2 separate regions of the Homo sapiens genome follow, and region 1 is linked to region 2. The links come from fine-mapping of genetic effects on gene expression. A gene starts in region 2. The other region holds a variant in brackets. All regions are shown on one strand. Distances are from middle to middle. Region 1 overlaps DNAL1 (dynein axonemal light chain 1). Region 2 holds the start of PNMA1 (PNMA family member 1).

The links. PIP is the estimated chance that this variant, and not a neighbour inherited with it, causes the effect.
Region 1: its variant is fine-mapped to the expression of PNMA1 in whole blood (TOPMed, PIP 0.97).

What each region holds. Positions count from the first base shown.
Region 1 is chr14:73,679,614-73,691,391 of GRCh38, reverse strand. It overlaps DNAL1 (dynein axonemal light chain 1), which reads right to left. Exons shown (of 8, transcript NM_031427.4): 6 at 4,007-4,133; 7 at 1,877-2,017. Among named protein-coding and RNA genes, the nearest start is that of PNMA1, 29 kb to the left of the region's middle. RefSeq lists an enhancer at 5,695-5,864. The variant C/T (reference allele first, on the strand shown) is at 5,871.
Region 2 is chr14:73,708,942-73,720,719 of GRCh38, reverse strand. It overlaps PNMA1 (PNMA family member 1), which reads left to right and starts at 6,336. Exons shown (of 1, transcript NM_006029.5): 1 at 6,336-8,937. The coding sequence starts at 7,081. The coding sequence ends at 8,142. MIDEAS (mitotic deacetylase associated SANT domain protein) reads left to right here. Exons shown (of 13, transcript NM_001367710.1): 12 at 1,219-1,415; 13 at 1,712-5,598. The coding sequence ends at 1,877. RefSeq lists enhancers at 1,295-1,905, 5,871-5,940, 6,881-6,940 and silencers at 6,161-6,440, 6,621-6,790.

The sequences.
Region 1 (11,778 bases), 29 kb after region 2:
TTTTACTAGAGACAGGATTTCACCATGTTGGCCAGGCTGGTCTCGAACTCCTGACCTCAAGTGATCCTCCCACCTCGGCCTCCCAAAGTGCTAGGATTACAGGTGTGAGCCACCACACCCAGCTAATAACATATATTTTGAATACTTACTTTATGTTAAGCACAACGTTTAGCGTAGATTATCTCTATGTGTTCATTGTTTCACATAGATTATTTTATTTAATCCTCATAATAATACTCTGATATATGTTCTGAAATGATTACTAATGATACTATTATCATCTCCAGTTTTTAGATTACCAATGAACAAGGTTTGGTGAGATTAATTAATTAGCACAATTTCACAAACTATTAAGTGGAGGAGCTGGGACTTGACTCAGTTAATTAGGGTTATCTACTGATGCTGACACTGATCTTAAGATATTGGGAAACTAAGACTGGGGATGAGGGGAGAAACAGAGAGAATACCACAATTTTGATCCAATTGTAAAAAAGCAACTGCTTACCATGTATTTCTAATTATTCTGCAGAATCAGAATAATTTTTGATTCTGATCAAAATTTGTGACCTTTGTGTTACCTTTCTGACTTGAGAATAAGCCTAACTTTCTTTATTTTTTAAACTTGCTTAAATGAGCTAGAAGTTTATTTTTCTTTTACATAAAAGTACAAGTAGATAGTAGATAGACATGGAACTTTATGTTGTCTGGAAGTCAGGATCCTTCTCTTTTTTTTTTTTTTGAGACGGAGTTTCGCTCTTGTTGCCTAGGCTGGAGTGTAGTGGCACAATCATGGCTCACCACAACCTCCGCCTCCCGGATTCAAGCGATTCTCCTGCCTCAGCCTCCCGAGTAGATGGGGTTACAGGCATGCACCACCACATCCGGCTAATTTTGTATTTTTAGTAGAGATGGGGTTTCTCCATGTTGGTCAGGCTGGTCTCGAACTCCCAACCTCAGGTGATCTGCCCGCCTTGGCCTCCCCAAGTGCTAGGATTACAGGCATGAGCCACCGCACCTGGCCAGGCTCCTTCTCTCTTACTGCTTGCATGGGTGTCCTCCTTGTGATACAGGGAAGAGTGAGAAAAGGAGGAGGCTCAGCACCAAACCCTGAATAATTCCAGCTTTAATCCAACATAGCAGAAGGAAATTTATATCAGGAAAAAATAAATATACAATTTTTTAAAAATAAATACAGGGTTTTTCTCACTATATTGCAAAGGCTGGTCTCAAACTCCTGACCTCAAGCAATCTTCTTGCCTCATTGAATAGCTTGACTACAGAAACGTGCCACTGTGACTGGCTCCATGTAGATTTATAAGGCCTAGCTTTCTTTTCTTTTCTTTTTTTTTTTTTTGAGACGGAATTTCACTCTTTTTTGCCCAGGCTGGAGTGCAATGGCACAATCTCAGCTCACTGCAACCTCCGCCTGCCGAGTTCAAGTGATTCTCCTGCCTCAGCCTCCCGAGTAGCTGGGATTACAGGTGCCCGCCACCACGCCTGGCTAATTTTTATATTTTTAGTAGAGATGGGGTTTCACCATGTTGGCCAGGCTGGTCTCAGACTCCTGACCTTCGGTGATCCACCCGCCTCAGCCTCCCAAAGTGCTAGGATTACAGGCGTGAGCCACCCATGCCCGGCCAGGCCTAGCTTTCTTATAAGCTTTTGGTCTAGGGAGAATCTTGTACCAGTCTAAATATCCTAGCAGTTTTTCATCTCACCTTGGCTCAAACCTAGACCATTCAATTTTACATAGATAGAAATGACCTGGAAGATCAGAGGTATTTTTTCTTTAGTTTTTCTCCTCTTCATGATTCCATGCCACAAATTCCATTTTTATGCCTAGAAGATATGTCTAAGCCAGCTCAGAATCACTCACCATCCAGCTTTTTCAGTTTGGGCACTCTCTTGGTTGCTTCTTCAATCCAGTTATTCTCAGCAGAATGTTTCTCTTCCAAGGGATTGCCTACAAACACCAGGTCTTCGAGGCATGGCAGTTCTGCCAGCTTCACAAACTCAGCTACAAGTAAAAGAATATTTTCCATATTAAAACACTAAGTTTTGGCCGGGTGCGGTGGTCCACGCCTGTAATCCCAGAACTTTGGGGGGACAAGGCGGGCGGATCACGACATCAGGAGATCGAGACCATCCTGGCTAACACAGTGAAACCCCATCTCTACTAAAAATACAAAAATAAGCCAGGCATAGTGGTGGGCACCTGTAGTCCCAGCTACTCAGGAGGCTGAGGCAGGAGAACTGCTTGAACCCGGGAGACGGAGGTTGCAGTGAGCAGAGATTGCACCAATGCACTCCAGACTGAGCGACAGAGCACGACTCTGTCTCAAAAAAAAAAAAAAAAAAAAAAAAACAGCAAGTTTTACTGTTACAATTTTGGGGATTAAATTCCAATATCATTAACCCTCAGTTTGTGACTATTCATGACAATCAGTTGTTTAAGATTTTGAAGGAAGCTAGGAAAGTTATACCATATAAAGTCATTCTCAGAAGACAGTACAGGATGGGAGGGAAAAAGAAGACATACCTCTCTACTTTAAATGCTAGCATAAGGATGAAATAAGACGAGATGAGATTCAAAGTCAAAAAGAACAAATCACTCTCCAGTGACAGGTCTTCTTCATGCTGTGCTGCATCAGTGTAGGTTAAGCTAACCTGCCTTTGTCTGTACCCATTCCCTCATCTTTGAATTCTTAAAACAACACATTCAAATCTGTATTGCAGAACTTATCACACAGTTTTGCTTTTTTTTGTTTTGAGAAAGAGTCTCCTTCTGTCACCCAGGCTGGAGTGCAATGGCTTCATCTCCACTCGCTGCAACCTCTGTCTCCTGGGTTAAAGCAACTCTCATGCCTCAGCCTCCCAAGTAGCTTGGACTACAGGCATGTACCACCACACCTGGCTATGTTTTTGTATTTTTGTATTTTTACAAAAAAAAATTTGGGTTTTGCTATGTTGGCCAGGCTAGTCTCAAACTCCTGACCTCAGGTGATCTGCCCGCCTTGGCCTCCCTAATTGTTGGGATTACCAGCAAGAGCCACTGCACCTGGCCTCTTATCACACAGTTTTATAATTATCAGCTTACAAACTAATTTTCCCCACTAAGCTGTGAACTTCTTGAGGGCAGGGATAATGTCCTATTCAACTATGTATCCAAAGAGACTGGTATAGTTCATCGCATATAACTGAATGAATTATATACAATAAAAAAGCAAAGTAACATAGATATCAAATAAGTCTTCTACCTTTGAAGTATTAAATTTAAACTGATTACTTCAGCCTTTGGATAATAGCTTAAATTTTTTTCATGATTAATAGGACCAGGACCTATCAGATTACGTTCATCCTAATTTTTTTTTTCAAGTTCTTTCACTTTTTTATTTTTTATTTTTATTATACTTTAAGTTTTAGGGCATATGTGTACAACGTGCAGGTTTGTTACGTATGTATACATGTGCCATGTTGGTATGCTGTGCCCATTAAGTCGTCATTTAACGTTAGGTATTTGAGACGGAGTCTTGCTCTGCTGCCCTGGCTGGAGTGCAGCGGCGCGATCTCGGCTCACTGCAAGCTCCGCCTCCCGGGTTCACGCCATTTTCCTGCCTCAGCCTCCCGAGTAGCTGGGACTACAGGCGCCCGCCACGACGCCCGGCTAATTTTTTTGTATTTTTAGTAGAGACGGGGTTTCACCGTGTTAGCCAGGATGGTCTCGATCTCCTGACCTCGTGATCCACCCGCCTCGGCCTCCCAAAGTTCTGGGATTACAGGCGTGAGCCACCGCGCCCGGTCCATCCTAAGTAAATATTTAAATATAAATGTTAAGCATTTAAAATTTAGAAACTCCTATTGCTGTTTCTCTCTGAGCTTAGCCATAAATGTTTCCACTTTCTCTCTGTGCTTAGAAATAAACGTTCTCGTTTTGCATCTTTTCCCTCTCGGACTATTTTCTATAAACAGGCGGTAGAAGGTTAGCAAAGGGCCACTCTCAGCTTACCCCAGTCTTTTACCAGGTTATTAGACATGTAGAGAATCTTCAATTTCTTCATTATGTGGATCCCTTTCAACTTCTCAATAAAATTGTAGGAGATCCACAGTTCTTCTAATGTGTCCCCTACTGCCTCCTGAAAAAGAACAAAATTTGATTTATGTTTATGTTTAAGCTTTTCTTTCTGTCTTCTTCTTTATAAAGATATACATAATGGCTTCCAAAGTGAACTTAGACCCTGCCTGTCTACTTGTAGAAGAGCTAGTAGTTGTGTGGGAGGTTTTTTTTTTCTCATTGAGGGAGCTAAGTAGAACATTCCATTCCCTTCTTCAAACTAATCTGAACTCTTCCTTCTCTGACTGCTCCACTAAAAAAAAAAAAAAATCACAAAACATAATACGTTACTAATACTGAAATCACCAAGAGGGGAAATAATGGCACTATCTTATCTCGTTCATTAATGGTACGGTTTTCAAATTACATTCCTATAGAGTATATTATTTGGTCCTTAGAACATCTGCTTTAAAGCCGATAAGGCAGGTTATTTGATTTCTATTACAGAGGGATTAAGGGCTTTTTCTAAGAACACACTATTAAATAATAGAGCTAGGTCTAAAATTCAGGGTCTTCTCCAACATTTATTATGATGATTTTCAAACATAAAAAAGTTGTTTTTTGTTTTGTTTTGAGACAGGGTCTCACTCTGTCACCCAGACTGGGGTGCAGTGTCACACTCACAGCTAACTGCAGCCTCAACCTCCCCCGGGCTCAAGCAATCCTCTCACCTCAGCCTCCCTAGTAGCTGGGACTACAGGTGCACACTACCACATCTGGCTAATTTTTGTCTTTTTGGTAGAGATGGGTTTTGTAGAGATGTTGTCCAGGCTGGTCTTGAACTCCTGGACTCAAGGGATCTGCCCGCCTCGGCCTCCCAAAGTGCTGGATTAAGGCATGAGCCACTGTGCCCAGCCAATAATACAATTTCCTGTAAGTATTTGTTAAGTAGATAATAAAGACAAGATTTTTGTGAAGCAGTCTAGTGAATATCAATGAGGAAAACCTGGCAAAGTTTGAGTGAATCAATTCAGTGAAATCTGTCATTAAATAAGCTGACTCTTTCGAGAATTGGACAATAACTGAACAGTCATTTAGCAAACTGGTCAGCTTCTGCATGTAAACAAGCCATTTCTCCCCTCAGTTTCTTACTCTGTAAAATGAGGAGACTGGCGCAATGAAATACCATCTCATACCCATTAGGATAGCTACTATCAAAATCACAGAAAATAGTAAGTATTAGTGAGGATGTGGAGAAATTGGAACCTTGTACACGGTTGGCAGGGAGGTAAAATGGTGCAGCTGCTATGGAAAACAATTTGGCCGTTCCTTAAAAAATTAATTATCATATGATAATTGATATCACTTAACAGGGGATCCAGCCATTCCACTTCGGGGCACATATTCAGAAGAAATGAAAGTGGGATCTCGAGATATTGGTACGCCCATGTTCACAGTAGCAAATTCACAATAGCCAAAAGATGGACGTGACCCAAGTGTCCACTGATAGACAAACGGATAAACAAAACATGGTATATACATACCGTAATAGAATATCATTTAACATTAAGCAGGAATGGGCTGGGTGCAGTGGCTCACATCTGTAATCCCAATACTTTGGGAAGCCAAGGCGGGCGGCTCACCTTAGGTCAGGAGTTTGAGACCAGCCTGGCCAACATGGTGAAATCCCATCTCTAATAAAAATATAAAAAAATTAGCCGGGCATGGTGGCACATGCCTGTAGTCCCAGCTACTTTGGCGGCTGAGGCAGAAGAATCACTTGAACCTGGGAGGTAGAGGTTGGAACGAGCCAAAATTG[C/T]GCAACTGCACTCCAGCCTCAGCGATACAGTGAGACTCAGTCTCAAAAAAAAAAAAAAAAATTAAGCAGAAAGGAAATTCTGACACACGCTACAACATGGATGAAACTTGAGGATATTACGCTAAGTTAAATAAGCCAGTCACAAAAAGATAAATGCTGTATGATACTACTTATATGAAATACCTAGAGTAGTTAAATTCGTAAAGACGGAAAGTGGAATGGTGGGTGCCAGGGATCAGGGAAGAGGCAGTAGGAAGCTACTGTATGCTTACAGAGGTTCAGACACACAAGATGAAGAGAGTTCTGGAGATGGATGGTGATGGTTGTGCAAGTCTACTTACTACCACTGAACTATACACTTAAAAATGTTTTAGATGGTAAACTTTATGTTATGTATATTTCACCACCATAAAAAACATTGGAAAAAATGAGGAAGTTGGACAAGTTCTTTAAGGTTCCTCTCAGCTATTAAAATTTATGATTTTTTAAGGTCAACAAACCATTGTAAGTATTGAAAACAAAAAAGTAAATGTCTACTCTGTAAATAATATCATGTTGGAGGTTACAGAAGTGGGAGAGCTTTATGAAATGCCATAAAATCTATTTTTTTAGTTTGTTTTTTAGTTTAGAGACAGAGTCTCGATCTGTTACGCAGGCTGCAGTACAGGGCACAATCAGGTCACTGCAGCCTTGAACTCCTGGGCTCAAGTGATCCTCCTGCCTCAGCCCCCTGAGTAGTTAGAACAGGCACGTGCCACCATGCTTGGCTAATTTAAAAAAATTTTTTTTTGTAGAGACAAGAGTCTCACTATGTTGTCTAGGCTGGTCTCAAACTCCTGGCCTCAAGCAATCCTGCCTCGACCTCCCAAAGTGCTAGGACTATAGGCGTGAGCCACCATGCCCAGCTGACCTCTATTTTAGACTATATGTAATGAGGATGATGATGATGATTATTGCTCTGTATAAAGTAATGAATCCAGGTAACACAATGTTGCTTGAAAATTGTTGTGGGGATGTGATTTATAAACAGTTAAGAATTGTTGGTAGGTAGTTGATTACATGTTAAGTATACAAAAATAAATGGCTTTTATATTATTTAATATAAACAGGAAGGGTGTTAAAGAGAAATGCATCATAGCAACAAAAACTATAAATTACCCAGGAAATTAAAAATAGAACTACCATATGATTCAGCAATCTCACTACAGGGTATATAGCCAAAAGAAATGAAAACAGTATGTCGAAGAGATAGCTATCAGCACTCCCATGTTTACTGCAGCACTATTCACAATAGCCAAAATATGGAATCAACCTAAGTGTCCAATAATGAATGAATGTATAAAGAAAATATGGTATATCACACAATGGAATACTATTCAGCCATAAAAAAGCATGAAATCCTGTCATTTGTTACAATGTGAATGAACCTGGAGAACATTATGTTAAGTGACACATCAGACACAGAATGACACTGCATGATCTCACTCATATGTGGAATCTAAAAAAGTTGATCTCGGCCAGGTGCGGTGGCTCACGCCTGTAATCCCAGCACTTTGGGAGGCCGAGGTAGGTGGATCACTTGAGGCCAGGAGTTTGAGACCAGCCTGACCAACATGGTGAAACCCCGTCTCTACTAAACATATAAAATTAGCCAGGTGTGGTGGTGGGCACCTGTAATCCCAGCTACCTGGGAGGAAGAGGCAAGAGAATCGCTTGAACCTGGAAGGTGGAGGTTGCAGTGAGCTGAGATCACACCATGGCACTCCAGCCTGGGTAACAAGAGTGAACTTGTTATTCTCAAAAGAATAATAATAATAATAATAAATAAATAAATAAAAAAAGCTGATCTCATGGAAGTAGAGAGCAGAACAGTAGTTACCAGAGACTGGAGAGGGGGGTGGGGGGCTGAGGGGAGGATGGGAATAAGTTGGTAAATGAGTACCAAGTTACAATTATGTAGGAGAATAAGCTCTGGTGTTCTATTGCACAGCAGGTTAACTATAGTTAACAATAATATATACAGTCATGCAATGCATAACATTTCATCAATGATTGACTCTATATACAATGGTGGTCCCATAAGATTATAATAGGGCTGAAAAATTCCTATTGCCTAGTGATATCCCAGCAGTCATAATGTGGTAGCACAAGGCATTCAAGTTTGTGGTGATACTAGTGTAAACAAACCTACTGAGCCACCAGCCATACACACGCATAACACATACACTTATGTATAGTACATAATAATGATAGTAAATGACAATATTACTGGTTTATGTGTTTACTATACTTTTTATAGTTATTTAAGATATACCCCTTCTACTTATTAAAAAAAAGCTAACTGTAGGCTGGGCGCGGTGGCTCACGCCTGTAATCCCAGCACTTTGGGAGGCCGAGGCAGGCGGATCACCTAAGGTAGGGAGTTCGAGACCAGCCTGACCAACATGGAGAAACCCTGTCTCTACTAAAAATACAACATTAGCTGGGCGTGGTGATGCACGCCTCTAATCCCAGCTACTCGGAAGGCTGAGGCAGAAGAATCGCTTGAACCCAGGAGGTGGAGGTTGCGGTGAGCCGAGATTGTGCCATTGCACTCTGGCCTGGGCAACAAGAGCGAAACTCCAACTAAAAAAAAAAAAAAAAAAAAAAAAATAACTATAAAACAGCCTCAGACAGGTCCTTAAGGAGGTATTCTAGAAAGAAGGCACTGTTGTCATACGAAATGGTGGCTCCATGTGTGTTACTGCCCCTGAAGACTTTCCAGTGGGACAAGATGTGGAGGTGGAAGACAGTGATATTGACTCTGGGTAGGCCTAGGCTAATGTATGTGTTTGTGTCTTCATTTTTAACAAAAATGTGTAAAAAAGATTTAAAAATTTAAAGATAGAAAAAAGCTTATAGAAAGCTTATAGAATAATGAAATAAAGAAAGAAAATATTTTTATACTACTATACAATGTGTGTTTCCAGCTGTTATTACAAAAAAGTCAAAAAGTTAAAAAAATATTGAAAAGTTTTTAACATTAAAAAAGTTGGCCGGGCGCAGTGGCTCATGCCTGTAATCCCAGCACTTTGGGAGGCCAAGGCGGGCAGATCACTTGAGGCCAGGAGTTCGAGACTAGCCTAGCCAACACAGTGAAACCCTATCTGTACTAAAAATACAAAAAAAAAAAAAAAAAAAAAAATTAGCCAGGCATGGTGGTGAGCACCTGTGATCCCAGCTACTCGGGAGGCTGAGGCAGGAGAATCACTTGAACCTGGGAGGCAGAGGTTGCAGTGAACTGAGATTGAGCCACTGCACTCTAGCCTGGGCAACAGAGCGAGACTCCATCTCAAAAAAAAAAAAAAAAAGTTACAGTAAGCTAAGGTTAATTTCTTATTGAAGAAATAAAAACAATATTATTATTTTTGAGACAGAGTTTTGCTCTTGTTGCCCAGGCTGGAGTACAAAGGTGCGATCTCGGCTCACTGCAACCTCTGCCTCCCAGGTTCAAGTGATTCTCCTGCCTCAGCCTTCCAAGTAACTGGAATTATAGGCATGCACCACCACGCCTGGCTAATTTTGTATTTTCAATAGAGATGGGGTTTCTCCATGTTGGTCAGGCTGATCTCGAACTCCCAACCTGAGGTGATCCACCTGCGTCAGTCTCCCAAAGTGCTGGGATTACAGGCGTGAGCCACCATGCCCAGCTAAACATATTATTTTTATTTATTTATTCATTTATTTAGAGGCAGCGTCTTGCTCTGTTGTCCAGGCTGGAGTGCAGTGGTGTGATCAGAGCTCACTGCAAACTCTAACTCCTGGGCTCAAGCAATCCTCAGTTTCCTGATACCTAGGACTACAGTGTGCATCACCACACCCAACTAATATATATATATATATATATATTTTTTTTTTTTTTTTTTTTTTTTTTTTTGGTAGAGATGGGGTCTCGCTATGTTGTCCATGCTTGATTCCAACTACTGGCCTTAAGTGATCCCACCGCCTCAGCCTCCTCAAGTGCTGGCATTACAGATGTGAGCCACTGTGCCCAGCTAAAACATTGTTTATAAATTAAGTGTAGCCTGTGTACAGTGTTTTATAAAATCACCGGGTGCGGTGGCTCATGCCTGTAATCCCAGCACTTTGGGAGGCCGAATCGGGTGGATTACCTGAGGTCAGGAGTTTGAGACCAGCCTGGCCAACATGGTGAAACCCCATCTCTAGTAAAAAATATAAAAACTAGCCGGGCATGGTGGTGGGCTCCTGTAATCCCAGCTATTCAGGAGGCTGAGGCAAGAGAATTGCTTGAACCCAGGAGACGGAGGTTGCAGTGAGCCGACAGGGTGCCACTGCACTCCAGCCTCAGTGACAGAGTGAGACTCCGTCTCAAAAAAAAAAAAAGCAAAAAAACAACAAACCCAACAACAACAAATAACAACAACAACAAAAAATCTACAGTTGTGTACGGTAATGTCCTAGGCCTTCACATTCACTCATCAGTCACTCACTGACTCATCCAGAAAAACTTGCAGTCCTGCAAGCTCCATTTATGATAAATGCTCTATACACCTGTATCATTTCTTATATTTTACACTGTATTTTTACTGTACTTTTTCTATGTTTAGATATACAAATACTTACCATTGTGTTCCAACTGCCTGCAGCACTCAGTACAGTGATATGCTGAGCAGGTTTGTCGCCTAGGAGCAATAGGCTAAACCATATAGCCTATGTATGTAGTAGGCTATACCATCTAGGTTTGTGTAAGCACACTCTATGATGTTCACACAACAACGATTGCCTAATGTTGCATTTCTCAGAATATATCCCAGTCATTATGTGATGCATGACTGTATTTCAAAATAGCTAGAAGAGAAGATTTTTAATGTTCTCACTATAAATAAATAATGTTTGAGTGATTGATATGCTAATCACCTTGGTTTGATCATTACACAACGTATATATATGTATCAAAACATAGCATTGTACCCCATGAATAAGTATAATTATAATGTGTCAATTTAAGAATTACTCAGAAATAAATCTTTATACATGAAATATACAAGGTCTTATAGGAATTAAAACTATGGAATTCTACTGAAGGACATAAAAAATATGAATACGTCTTCTCATAAGATTCATTATTATAAAGCTATAACTTCTCTCCAAATCAATTCACAAATGTAATATTTAGGAGTTTTTTCATACATGGACAAAGATGGTGGAGCAACACAGCTTGTACAAAAGATTGCAACAACCTAAGTGTCCGTCAGCCGTGGCCTAGCTAAATATATTAATACTATGCATTGAGGAAAACAAGGTGGAACTTACCTGTATGTGCTGAAGTGGAATAATTTGCAAGATATATTAAGATAATTTGATAAAATGATTCTCAAGTTTCTCTGAAGAGTAAATGCCCACAAATATTTTGAAAAAGGAGAGAGGATTTTTCTTGATATCAAAATAAATTCTAAAGTTAAAGAAAATTAAAGCAGCATGATATTGAAGCTGAAATTTATAGAAAGAACAACAAACAGAAAGAAACTGACCATCCAGGAACCTACCCATGCATATCCAGGAGTTTAGCAGGTGGCATTTACAAACAGTAGGAAAAAGAGACTTTTCAATAAATGGCTAACCAATTAAAGAAAAAAAAAAAAGACATGATACCTGCGCCTCATGACACATGTAAAAATAAACTCCAGATGAATTAAGAGTATAGACTTAAAATTTTTAATTAAGAAGATAAGACTATTTTTACAATCTAGTACCTAAGACCTTCTATGTAAAATACAAAACACTGAAACCATAAAGATTTGACTAACAAAAATTTTTAAATACCATTTGGTAACCACGAATAAGGTAAAAAGACAAGAAACAAACTAAGAGAAAATATATCAGTTTTGAAAACTGCATTAAATTTCAA
Region 2 (11,778 bases):
TGGACTCCTAGTGCAGTGCTCTGTCCACCATATCACAGGCCAAGAAACAAGACTACTGGCCATAGTTGCTCCTTGCCAGGGAGAGTTCTCCCAGAAAGGGGTAAGGAGGGGAAGGGGTTTATTGGGGAGCTGCTGCTTTTTTAGAGTCTTTTTTTTTAGAAATGTATGTAGTAGGCCGGGCGCAGTGGCTCACACCTGTAATCCCAGCACTTTGGGAGGCCAAGGTGAGTGGATCACCTGAGGTCAGGAGTCGAGACCAGCCTGGCCAACAAGGTGAAACCTCATCTCTATTAAAAATACAAAAACTAGCTGGGCATGGTGGTGCACGCCTGTAATCCCAGCTACTCCAGAGGCTGAGGCAGGAGAATCACTTGAACCCAGGAGGTGGAGGAGGCGGAGGTTGCAGTGAGCCAAGATCATGCCACTGCACTCCAGCCTGGGTGACATAGCAAGACTCCATCTCAAAAAAAAAAAAAAAAAAAAGGAATGTGTGTAGTACACTCATGCTTACAGAGCTCCCATAAACTGTAAACACACGGCTGTGTGCCCACTTCTGAGCCTCGACCACCTGCACCAAGAGCTGTGCTCTGTGTAGCGCTCTACAGAGTTCTGTTGACTTTTGTGAACTTTCCCATGAGGGTGCCACTTCTGATGGCCACCCGGGGCTTCCCCAGCCGAGGTCACCTCTGCTCCCTCTGCTCTGCACTCTGACCCCTGCCCTTGCCCTGTTTGGTGTCCCTGCAGTGCGCTGTCCTGAAGTAGCTACCTGCGCATCTGTCCCTTCCACCAGATCCTCAGCTCTGAGGGCAGGGATGCCTGTGTCAACCTCTTTGTCCCTAGCATCTGGCCCATCACAGGGGCCTGAATCTCATTTATAGAACAGGGCATGAGCGGACTAAATGACAGAAAACATCAACAGGTAGGTGCTTCATTAACCCAGAGACCAAGATCCCCTGTCAGGCGCATCAAGGCCTCTAGCAGCTCGGGCTGCCCCACAGAATTACTCTAGCAGCAACTTTGTAAACGATAGAGCTGACCAGAGATGCAGAGTTGGAGGAGGCAATGGTCGTCATATCCCTGGAAGGACCCAAGTGCATGCTAGGTGACTGTTTGGCAGGAATATATATGACTTTTCAGGCCCCCGGTTCCCTGCGATTTTAGAATTCCAGATCTGCGCTTGCTCAGATCACTCAACTCTCCTTGTTTGATTTTCTTCAGGCCAGTGACATCCTCATCCTCCGGAGCCACGAGTCCAACGCCCCTGGGTCTGCCGGTGGCCAGGCCTCGGAGAAGCCAAGGGAAGGGACAGGGAAGTCACGAAGGGCACTACCTTTTTCAGAGAAGAAGAAAAAAACAGAGACATTCAGTAAGACCCAGAATCAGGAGAACACTTTCCCCTGTAAAAAATGTGGCAGGTAAGGTGGGCAGCGCTGTCCCCGCTGGGACCCCCGCGGGCTGGTGCGCGGAGGGGGCGGGGGTGGGGTGGAGGGGAGGGGGAAGAGGTACAGGCGGTGTCCGCCTCGTTTCTGGTTGGCTCAGCGGGTTTCTAGGGCTGTGACGTCATGGGGCAGCTTTCGGAAAATGACGCGAGCTGGCCGGCCGCGGCTGTGCAGCGTGGGGGTGAAGGTGAAGGCTGGGGCTCCTCGCGCACCCGCGCTGGGGGCCCCCGGGTGGGCTAGGCCGGTTCTGAGCAACCCCCACCCGGCTGCAGGGTGTTTTACAAGGTGAAGAGCCGCAGTGCGCATATGAAGAGCCACGCAGAGCAGGAGAAGAAGGCTGCAGCGCTGAGGCTGAAGGAGAAAGAGGCCGCTGCTGCCGCCGCCGCCGCCCACCAGCAGGCCCTGCGGGAGGAGAGCGGTGCGGGCGACAAGGGCTGAGCGCGGGAGCCAGGCTGGCCCAGTCCTGGGCCTCGGCCCTTCCCGCACCGCCGCCAGCGCCCGCAGACACCCTGGCATCTCAAGAGGGAGTGAGGAGAGGATTGCAGGGACTTTTCCCTGCGAAACAAATGAGACAATGACATAAACGGCTCTTTTATTTATGAAGGCCCTGGGAGCAGCGTTAAGGGCTCCAGGATCCAGCTCTCTTTGCATTTGGTCTGTCGGAAGCTGTCCTCGTGCTTTCCTGGACCGGGAGAGTCCCGGTCCCCTCGGGAGGGACTCCACCGCCTCTCACACTCCGATTTCTGCTGCTCTGCTGCCCCGCAGTCTTTTCCCTTTATTTGCTTCCCCCTCCTCCCCTCGGCCTCCAGGAAGCCACCGTGGCCGGCCAAGCACAAGCTCACCCACTTTGGAGCAGCATTTCTCCTCCCCAGAGGACCTCGAAGGCTGCAACGGCCCTGCCCCAAGCCCCAGAAAAAGAAACTCTTGGAGGGAGTCTGCGGGCTTCTCTGAGAAGGGGCGCAGCCTGACACCTGTGCTGTCCCTGCAGTCTCTAGGCCTGTCTGAGCTGCTCCCGTGACCGTGTCCTGAGTGGCCACCTCCTCCTTGGGAGGGAGGCCGCGGCAGGTACTCTCCCTTTGCTGCTTGCTGGCGGCCTTGCTAGGGCTAGAAAGTTTTCTCAGCGTTGGGGGAGGGGCTAGCGTTCTTGTCCAAAGCACTCATCCTGCTGCAGGGAAGGGAGCTGTACGGAGGCTGGAAGCTGCAGGGTTAGGCCCGAGAGAGCTTTTGACAAGCCTGGCTCTTCCTGCTTCCCACCTTTTTGGCTGAATACCTTTGGGTCCTGGAGGCTGCCAAGGGCGCTTCGCCTTGAGCAGGTCCCGGAGAGGCTCAGCCTGCCCCTCCTGGGGCCAGCCTCCTTGCCTCTGCTCTGACCTCAGCAGCTACACCTAACCCCACCGCACCCTACCCAGTGTCGATATCCACAACCCAGCCCCCAGGCCTGCACTTTGGAGATTTCTGGATCCTTCCCTGGGAGGGAGAGGTCTCCTAACTCGATTGGACAGGAGCCTTCATTCCTTGACTCGTGTCATTTGGGAGCTATTTATTTATTCTTAGTATTTAATTTTTAACATCCTCTCAGGGACCAGGGGCCTCCTGCTTTTCAGAGGCCCGAGTGCATTTATCCCAAAACGAGGCATCTTGACATCCCCTATCCCCACCCCCTAAATTCCCAAGGCCCTAAGGTCCCTCACCTGGTTGCTCTGGAAGCTCTTGCTGATAGGAATGATAGCAACACTGAAAGAGCGTGGGAAGGTGGAGGGTGTCACCAGACCCACACAGAGCAAGGGAGATTAAGGCAGTTCTTGCTGCCCCTTCTCTGGCTGTGCTTTGCCTGAGGGAAGAGTTGGCAAGAGGCCAGAATTCTAGTTTGGTTTATGGGGCCTGGATTCTGGCTTGAAGAAGCCATATTTGGCATGGGTGAAGTGAAAGGGCCAGGAGGTTCTGGAGGCCCCTTCACTTCCAGTCCCATAGCGGGGCTCAGCTATTTTTCTGATCTTATTCAACTTTAGTTGTGCAAAAGAAATTCTAAGTGAATGCGCGTATGACAGGTCAACGTATTAGGAAGGAGCCAGAAAGTATTCATACTGCTACTCCTTATGAGATAGCCAAGAAGCATCATGTCAGTAACTGGGAGTGGAGAGGGAGTTTTGTTTTGAAACTATGCAGGTATTTTTCAGCATCCATTTGTACATTAGTATGGTTCTACAGGACCCCAGCTGTGGAAGTAACAAATTTCTTCTCCCTCCAGACTCTTGGATGACTACCTAGATCCCCAGCTTACCGGTTAGTTTCCTCCACAGGCTTCCATGAGCTCAGTGTCCCAAGACAGCAAAAATCTGGTATACCCTGTAGAAGCAGGGGGGTAGCAAATTTAGGCTCTCTTCGAAATTACTTGTACAATACGAGTGCCTTCGCAGCTTAGCCCCAAAGTGCTACTTATGTTTCCCAAGGTCTTTTCTATTCAAATCATATTTGGTTTCAGGCCCCTTTATGGGCATACGGTAACAGAAACCTCCATCATTCATATGAGACCCTTTTGTCAGTGGTAACATCTTGTACTTGGAAAAAAAATTTTTTTTTTTTTTTTTTTTTTTTTTTGAGACAGAGTCTCATTCTGTCGCCCAGGCTGGAGTGCAGTGGTGTGATCTTGGCTCACTGCAACCTCCGCCTCTTGGGTTAAAAGAATTCTCCTGCCTCAGCCTCCTGAGTAGCTGGGATTATAGGCACACACCACCACACCCAGCTAATCTTTTTGTATTTTTTTTTTTAGTAGAGACAGGGTTTCGCCATGTCGGCCAGGCTGGTCTTGAACTCCTGACCTCAGGTGGTCCACCCGCCTCGGCCTCCCAAAGTGCTGGCATTACAGGCGTGAACCACCGTGCCTGGCCGGAAGTCTTTAAAAAATAAAGTGATTCTACTCTTCTAAGCTTACAGAGACCAGACCAGGTGAATGTAACTGGGGAAAATCAAGATGGTACCTCTCTGCATTATCCCGCCAGACACTGTATTTTATGCATTCATGTCTAGGATACAGTGTGAAAATTAAAAAGTTTAGAGGGCAGATGCAATTGTGGCAAGTGACCTGCCAATAAAGCAGGTGCAGCTATAGAAGCTGGCATAGGTATATCCTTAATGGTGCTTTCTCCCTGGGCTTGTCTTTTTGTTGTTTTTTTCCCCCTATATTCAGAGCTCCTTGAGAAGTGATAAACACCTCCAGCTTTCTAACATCCTCCCCACACCATCTCACCATATCCATCTCCCAGCATCCATCTGCATTCAGCTAAGGGCGGGAAACTGACCTAGTGCCTGTGTTGCAGACCATTTCTGAGGTCTCCACCATCCAAGGAGGCACAGCCGTCATTACTGTCCTCCATGCCTTCAGCAGCCCCCCTCACAGCTAAGGTACATACCACCCCTTCTGCCGCGCCTCCACCCCTGGCACCAAGGTCTTCTGCTGCTTATGTCTAAAGGGATCACCTATATTTAACTGCCTCAGTGACCTAACCTCTTTCTTCTCATGTGCCAGATGTTAAGATGAAGGAGGAATACAACACATACTCAAGCCTCAGCCTGTTTAGTTGTTTTCACTGGGGCTCGCTTTTCTGGGACGGTATTTATTATCAGACTGGCAAGCCTAACTCCATAGGTTTACAGGAAGTAGGGATATTTTTATAAAACAATTGTGTCCTCCCCACATTTTGCTATGTTAATATTTGCTTCTAACAATTTGCAGCTGTTTCACTTTTTCCTCATTTGTCTCTAAGTTGAAGGCTTTGTTGGAGGGGACAGAGCACAGGAACAGCCTTGACAGTCTGTAATTATTGTACAGATATTTTAATAGCATATAAATAAGTATATTCCTTTTATTTTGAAACAAAAATGATCAGACACTGCCTTTTGTGTGTTTGCTGCCTGTGGCATCCTTTTTTAAAAAGACTGTTACATATTAAAATAGTGTACATATATAAATATTACCTCTTTTGCTGTACAGTTGTGATAGAGACTGAAGATTTTATTTTTTGTGTGCTTTTTATAAGAAAAAAATTAATACACTAAAGAATCTTGCTGATGTGATTGTAATGTACCTATGTAACTTATTTACTTTTGAATGTTCTTCTGTATCTTTAAACCTTTTATTAAATAAGGTTTTAAAAATTCAGAGTTGAATGCTTTGTTCTCTTGGGATTTTCACCATCTGGGGTTGATGTAAGTGCGCCTTGTCTTGCTTGCAGGGAGATTACTCGACATTTTTGAACCATAAGGATTCTCTTTTAGCAGCCTATTGTCAATGATGCCAGCCAGGAAAAGGAAAATAATACACTAATGTTTGCCTGGCTAAAAGATGACTCAGTAGACACAGACAGATTTTTACAAAATTTTAGACAAGAAAAAGTCTAAACTCAGTGTCTCACACAAATACACAGAAATGGCGCACTCCGACATTTTGGCTTCATTGGGATGAAATATGCAGGGTGCACAGTGTGGTCAGGGGCAACGGGAAGCCAGGGTTCTGAGGAGAGTATTTTCACGTGCAGGGTGGACTGGCTGAGCAACCCGAGTAGACAAGTCCACCATGAGGGATGCATTTCCAACAATATCATCTTAAATCCACTCCAGGATTGGGTTATTATTTTTAAAACACGGTGCTTAGTAGTAGTTGTTTACTGTTAAAATGCTAAATTATGAAAAAGGAAATGCGCCATCAGAGAAACAAATGCCCGAGCCCCTCGCTGGCTCCACGGCAACCGCTCGACCCCCGCGAGCCGCCGGAGCAGGCGTGCCTCGCGCCGGCTGGGACACCGTTGCCATGGAGACGCCCGAGCAGCTCCGCCGCGGGGGCGGGACGGGGCGGGGCGGGGCGGACGCCGCTCGCCGGCTGGCCCCATCCTCCACTGCAGCAGTAACGTCGCGGCGGGTTGCGGGTAGGACTGGACGCCAGAGCAGCCGCGCAGCGCCTGAACCGCTGCGGGCCGCCGCGGCCGCCCCTTCCCACCCTCGCCTCTGCTGTCTCCAGCCTCGCTTCTCCGACTTTCCTGCTCCTCTGCTGCCTTCGTTTCTGGTCCTCGGCCGTCCTCGCCGCCCGCCCAGAGGAGTCCCCGCGCCCGCCAAGAAGCCGCTTTCCGCTGGCCCGCAGCCGCCGCGACTTCGGCACAGTTTCTCCCTCTGGCTAGTCTCCCAAACGGCCGCTCCTCGCCCGCGGGAAGACCAGGCTGCGACCGCGAACGCCCGATCCTCTCCAGGAGCCGCAGCGAGCGCCCGGCGGCCACGCCCCGCGACCACACCCCGGCGGCTCTCGGCCCAGCGCGCCTGCCTTCGCCGCCCGCCGTCGCTCCTCGCCCGCTGCACGACGACGCGACGCCCCTGCTGCAGGCGGCGGACCCGACCGGACCCAGACCCAGACGCAAGATGGCGACGGCCGCGTGACTGCCTCAGCGTCCCCGAGCTCGGCTCCGAGTGCACCTACGGACTGACTGTGGGGGCAGAGAAGGGCGAGATCAGGACTCTGTCTTTGTTAATCGTGACTGCATGAAGGTCGCCTCCCTCGGGCCTACTTGGTGGGAGTGTCTGGTATTGTTCTAAGGCCAGGAGCACGGTGAGCCACAGTCTGTTGGTAGAATTTGGCGTCTTGATAGTTGAGAAAATGGCGATGACACTGTTGGAAGACTGGTGCCGGGGGATGGATGTGAACTCCCAGAGAGCTCTGTTAGTCTGGGGCATCCCAGTGAACTGTGATGAGGCTGAAATCGAAGAGACCCTCCAGGCTGCGATGCCCCAGGTCTCCTACCGAATGCTTGGGAGAATGTTCTGGAGGGAAGAAAATGCGAAAGCAGCCTTATTAGAGCTCACTGGCGCTGTAGATTACGCCGCGATCCCCAGGGAGATGCCGGGCAAAGGAGGGGTCTGGAAAGTGTTATTTAAGCCCCCAACTTCTGATGCTGAATTTTTAGAAAGATTGCACCTCTTCCTAGCTAGAGAGGGGTGGACCGTGCAAGATGTTGCCCGTGTCCTTGGGTTTCAGAACCCTACTCCGACCCCGGGCCCAGAGATGCCAGCAGAGATGCTAAACTATATTTTGGATAATGTTATTCAGCCTCTTGTTGAGTCCATATGGTACAAGAGGCTGACACTTTTCTCGGGGAGGGACATCCCAGGGCCTGGAGAGGAAACCTTTGATCCCTGGCTGGAGCACACTAATGAGGTCCTAGAGGAGTGGCAGGTGTCCGATGTAGAAAAGAGGCGGCGGTTGATGGAGAGTCTTAGAGGCCCCGCCGCTGATGTTATTCGCATCCTTAAGTCCAACAACCCCGCGATAACCACTGCCGAATGCCTGAAGGCGCTTGAGCAGGTGTTTGGGAGCGTTGAGAGCTCTAGGGATGCCCAGATCAAATTTCTGAACACTTATCAGAACCCGGGAGAAAAATTGTCTGCTTATGTCATTCGTCTGGAGCCTCTGCTACAGAAGGTGGTAGAGAAGGGGGCCATTGATAAAGATAATGTGAACCAGGCCCGCCTAGAGCAGGTCATTGCCGGGGCCAACCACAGCGGGGCCATCCGAAGGCAGCTGTGGCTTACCGGGGCTGGGGAAGGGCCAGCCCCAAACCTCTTTCAGTTGCTGGTGCAGATCCGTGAGGAGGAAGCCAAGGAGGAGGAGGAGGAGGCTGAGGCCACCCTTCTGCAGTTAGGCCTGGAAGGGCACTTCTGAGTGCCAGGAAAGGCAGCTTTAGTGCAGACCTAGATCACAGCTACTTTTCTTGTCCCTGTGGGGTCTTACAGATGTGTCTCTGAGTAGTAAAGGCTTAGCCTTGTTCTGTTTTGTTGTTTTTTGGAGGGGAAGGTTAGTCAGGCCTGAGTATTCATGTAACATTCTAAAATTGTGCCAGCGAGCACCGTGAACGACTGCAATGCAAGCGGGTCTTGCTGGCTAAAATGCCAGGTAAAGGGTTGGTTGGACACAGCGCTTAGTGCACGCTGTCATCATGGACATCATAATCAGTTGTGAAAAACACGCGAACCTATGACACTTCTTATTCCACACTGAATGTGAAATTGCATGTTCAGATGTTTACTACGAGGCCTGGCTCACAGGAAGTGTTCAGTAAAAGTATGCACTGTTAGATTACTGATAACGCGGATAGATTTTTGTTTACCATAAATTGTTCCAGATTTATATTAATGGAAGGAAGTGTGCATTTATTAGCTATTACTCAACTTTACAATGCAAACATCTTATTTCTCATCTTTAAACATGTCGACCAGTTTAATTGAAAAGTATTCTGAGACTGCAAAATGGGGTGTTAAAAAATACTGCAGTTACGGAGCTGTGTAAACCAGTTTCTCATTGCATAAGATACAGATGTAAATTGCATGGAGAGGTTGATATGCACCTGTACAGTAATTCACTCCCCCATTTCACATCTTTGTCAGAGAATAGTTCTTGTTCATACTGAGTGTTCTAAATTTGAAGTTATATATACAAATTAAAATATTTTAAAAATTCTGTTGTCTTCTCATTTTTCTGGCATGTATAAACATTTTTAGCCTAAGTAAACTGTCCTTTTTTCTTATGAAGACTTTGTCATTAAATCAAACCATTTATTTTAAGCTTTGTATGATACTATGTGAATTTAAATGGCAGGTCCTTTTTTTCCTTCCCCTCTTGCTGTCATCTTAACAGTTTTTTGTTTTGTTTTTTAATTTTTAAAATTTTTTATTTTTATCGGGCAGAGAGGGTCTTGCTCTGTTGCCCAGCCTGGAGTGCAATGGAGCGATCTCGGCTCACTGCAACCTCTGCCTCCCGGGTTCAAGTGATTCTCCTGCTTCAGCCTCCTGAGTAGCTGGGATTACAGACATGCGCCACCACGCCTAGCTAATTTTGTATTTTTTTAGTAGAGACGGGTTTCACCATGTTGGTCAGGCTGGTCTGGAACTCCTCACCTCAAGTGATCCACCCACCTCGGCCTCCCAAAGTGCTGGGATTACAGGCGTGAGCCACCTCGCCGTCTCTACTAAAAATACAAAAATTAGCCGGGTGTGGTGGTGCGTGCCTGTAATTCCCGCTACTTGGGAAGCTGAGTCAGGAGAATCGCTTTGGGAGGCGGAAGTTGCAGTGAGCCGAGATTGCGCCATTGCACTGCAGCCTGGGCAACAGAGTGAGACTCCATCTCAAAAAAAAAAAAAAAAAAATTTAGATACCAGATTTGGCTCACACTTGTAATCCCAGCACTTAGGGAGGATTGCCTGAAGCCAAGATTTTGAGACCAGCTTGGGCAACATAGACCCAATCTCCACCCAAACTTTTAAAAATTAGCCAGGCATGGTGGCACACGCCTGTGGTCCCAGCACTAAGGTGGCCACCCAGCGGCTAAGGTGGGACATCGCTTGAGCTCAGCAGGTTGAGGCTGCAGTAAGCCATGATCGTCCCACCGCACTCCAGCCTGGTGATAGAGTGAGACCCTGTTTCTCAAAAAATTTTTTTTTAGAAAATCTTGAAATGGGGTTCAGGAGGTTATCTGGCAGTGTTTTTCTCTTAAGATCACTTTTCAGCTAAACATTTTGTTTCACTGAAGAAATAGCTATAATTCATCACACCTGTGTAAAATGAAGGCTATTTTACAGCAACCATTTTATAGCAGGACGATATAAAAAGGGAAATACAACTTTAAAACATGTTTATTTTGCTGCAAAGATTCAGTGATTGAAGATGTCCATCTTTTGAGATCCTCAGTGAATCTAAAGTTATTACATGAATATTGTGTTCAGTGAGCCTTTCCCTAATAAGGTTTTAAAATTATAGCTGAGCCATTCGACAAGTCTATAAGGGGTAATGTATGTTCTTCCAGATTTTTCGGTACACGTATTCGCTTCATGTCAGTACATCCCTTTCCTCCTGTCACAAAAACATCTCCACATACTTGCCTTGGTTCCCAACAGATATGCTCAGCTTCACTTACCACAAACACTTGGCATGTCTTCACCTGCTACCCATCATTCACAGAACTTTCCCCTCCATTCCCACCAGCATCAGGTGCACACTCACCCCTCTTACACTCTTGACACACTGTCATCTCCCCGTCAGTACTCCCATCATAACATACACCCTCCTCCTGCTCCACATGTACACGATGTCAGTCTCCCACCCCCAACATATATTCCCATTTCTCCTCACACCCACACACACTCCCACCACCAAACACCAACCAGCCACCACATATGTATACACACTCCCACTCCACACATATACACACATACTGCATTTTTTTTTTTGAGACGGAGTCTCGCTGTGTTGCCCAGGCTGGAGTGCAGTAGCGTAATCTCAGCTCACTGCAACCTCTGTCTGTTGGGCTCAAGTGATCCTCCTGCCTCAGCCTCCCAAGTAGCTGGGATTACAGGTGTGTGCCACTACGCCCGGCTAATTTTTGTATTTTTAGTAGAGACAAGGTTTCACCATGTTGGCCGGGCTGGTCTCAAACTCCTGACCTCGTGGTTTGAAAGTACTCCAAAAATGCTGGGATTACAGGCGTAAGCCACCACAACTGGCCCACATACTACATTTTTAAAAATGGGCCCGTTGTAGTGGCTCACACCTGTAATCCCAGCACTTTGGGATGCTGAGGTGGGAGGATCACTTAAGGACAGGAGTTCAAGACCAGCCTGAGCAAAATACCAAGACCTTGTCTCCACAAAAATAAGTAAATTTAAAAATTAGCCAGGCTATTTAGGAGGCTGATGCAGGAGGATTGCTTGAGCCCAGGAGTTCAAGGTTGCAGTGATCTATGAACATGCCACCGCACTCCAACCTGGGGTGACGGAACAAGACCCTGTCTCGAAAAAAACAAAACAAAACAAAAAACCACGCACACAGATGCACCAAAAAAACAAACTAGGTATATAAGGATTATTCGGGGGGGGCGGGGGGGTTGTTTGTTTTGTTTTTTTGGTGTATGCTTGGGGTTTTTTTTTTTTTGGCCCAATATGTTATGGACATCCTTCTACAGTTTAAACATGGGGGGATAGACCTTCTTTTCATAGATGCAGAGTTGGCTGCATTCTTAGGAGGGAAGTTATTTTCATGCACGTCCGTGTGAAGAGAGCACCAAACAGGCTTTGTGTGAGTAACGTGGCTGTTTATTTCACCTGGGTGCAGGCGGGCTGAGTCCGAAAAGAGAGTCAGCAAAGGGTGGTGGATTATCATTAGTTCTTATAGATTTTGGGATAGGCGCTGAAGTTAAGAGCAATGTTTTGCGGGCAGGGGTGGATCTCACAAAGTACATTCTCAAGGGTGGGGAGAATTACAAATAACCTTCTTAAGGGTGGGGGAGATTACAAAGTACATTGATCA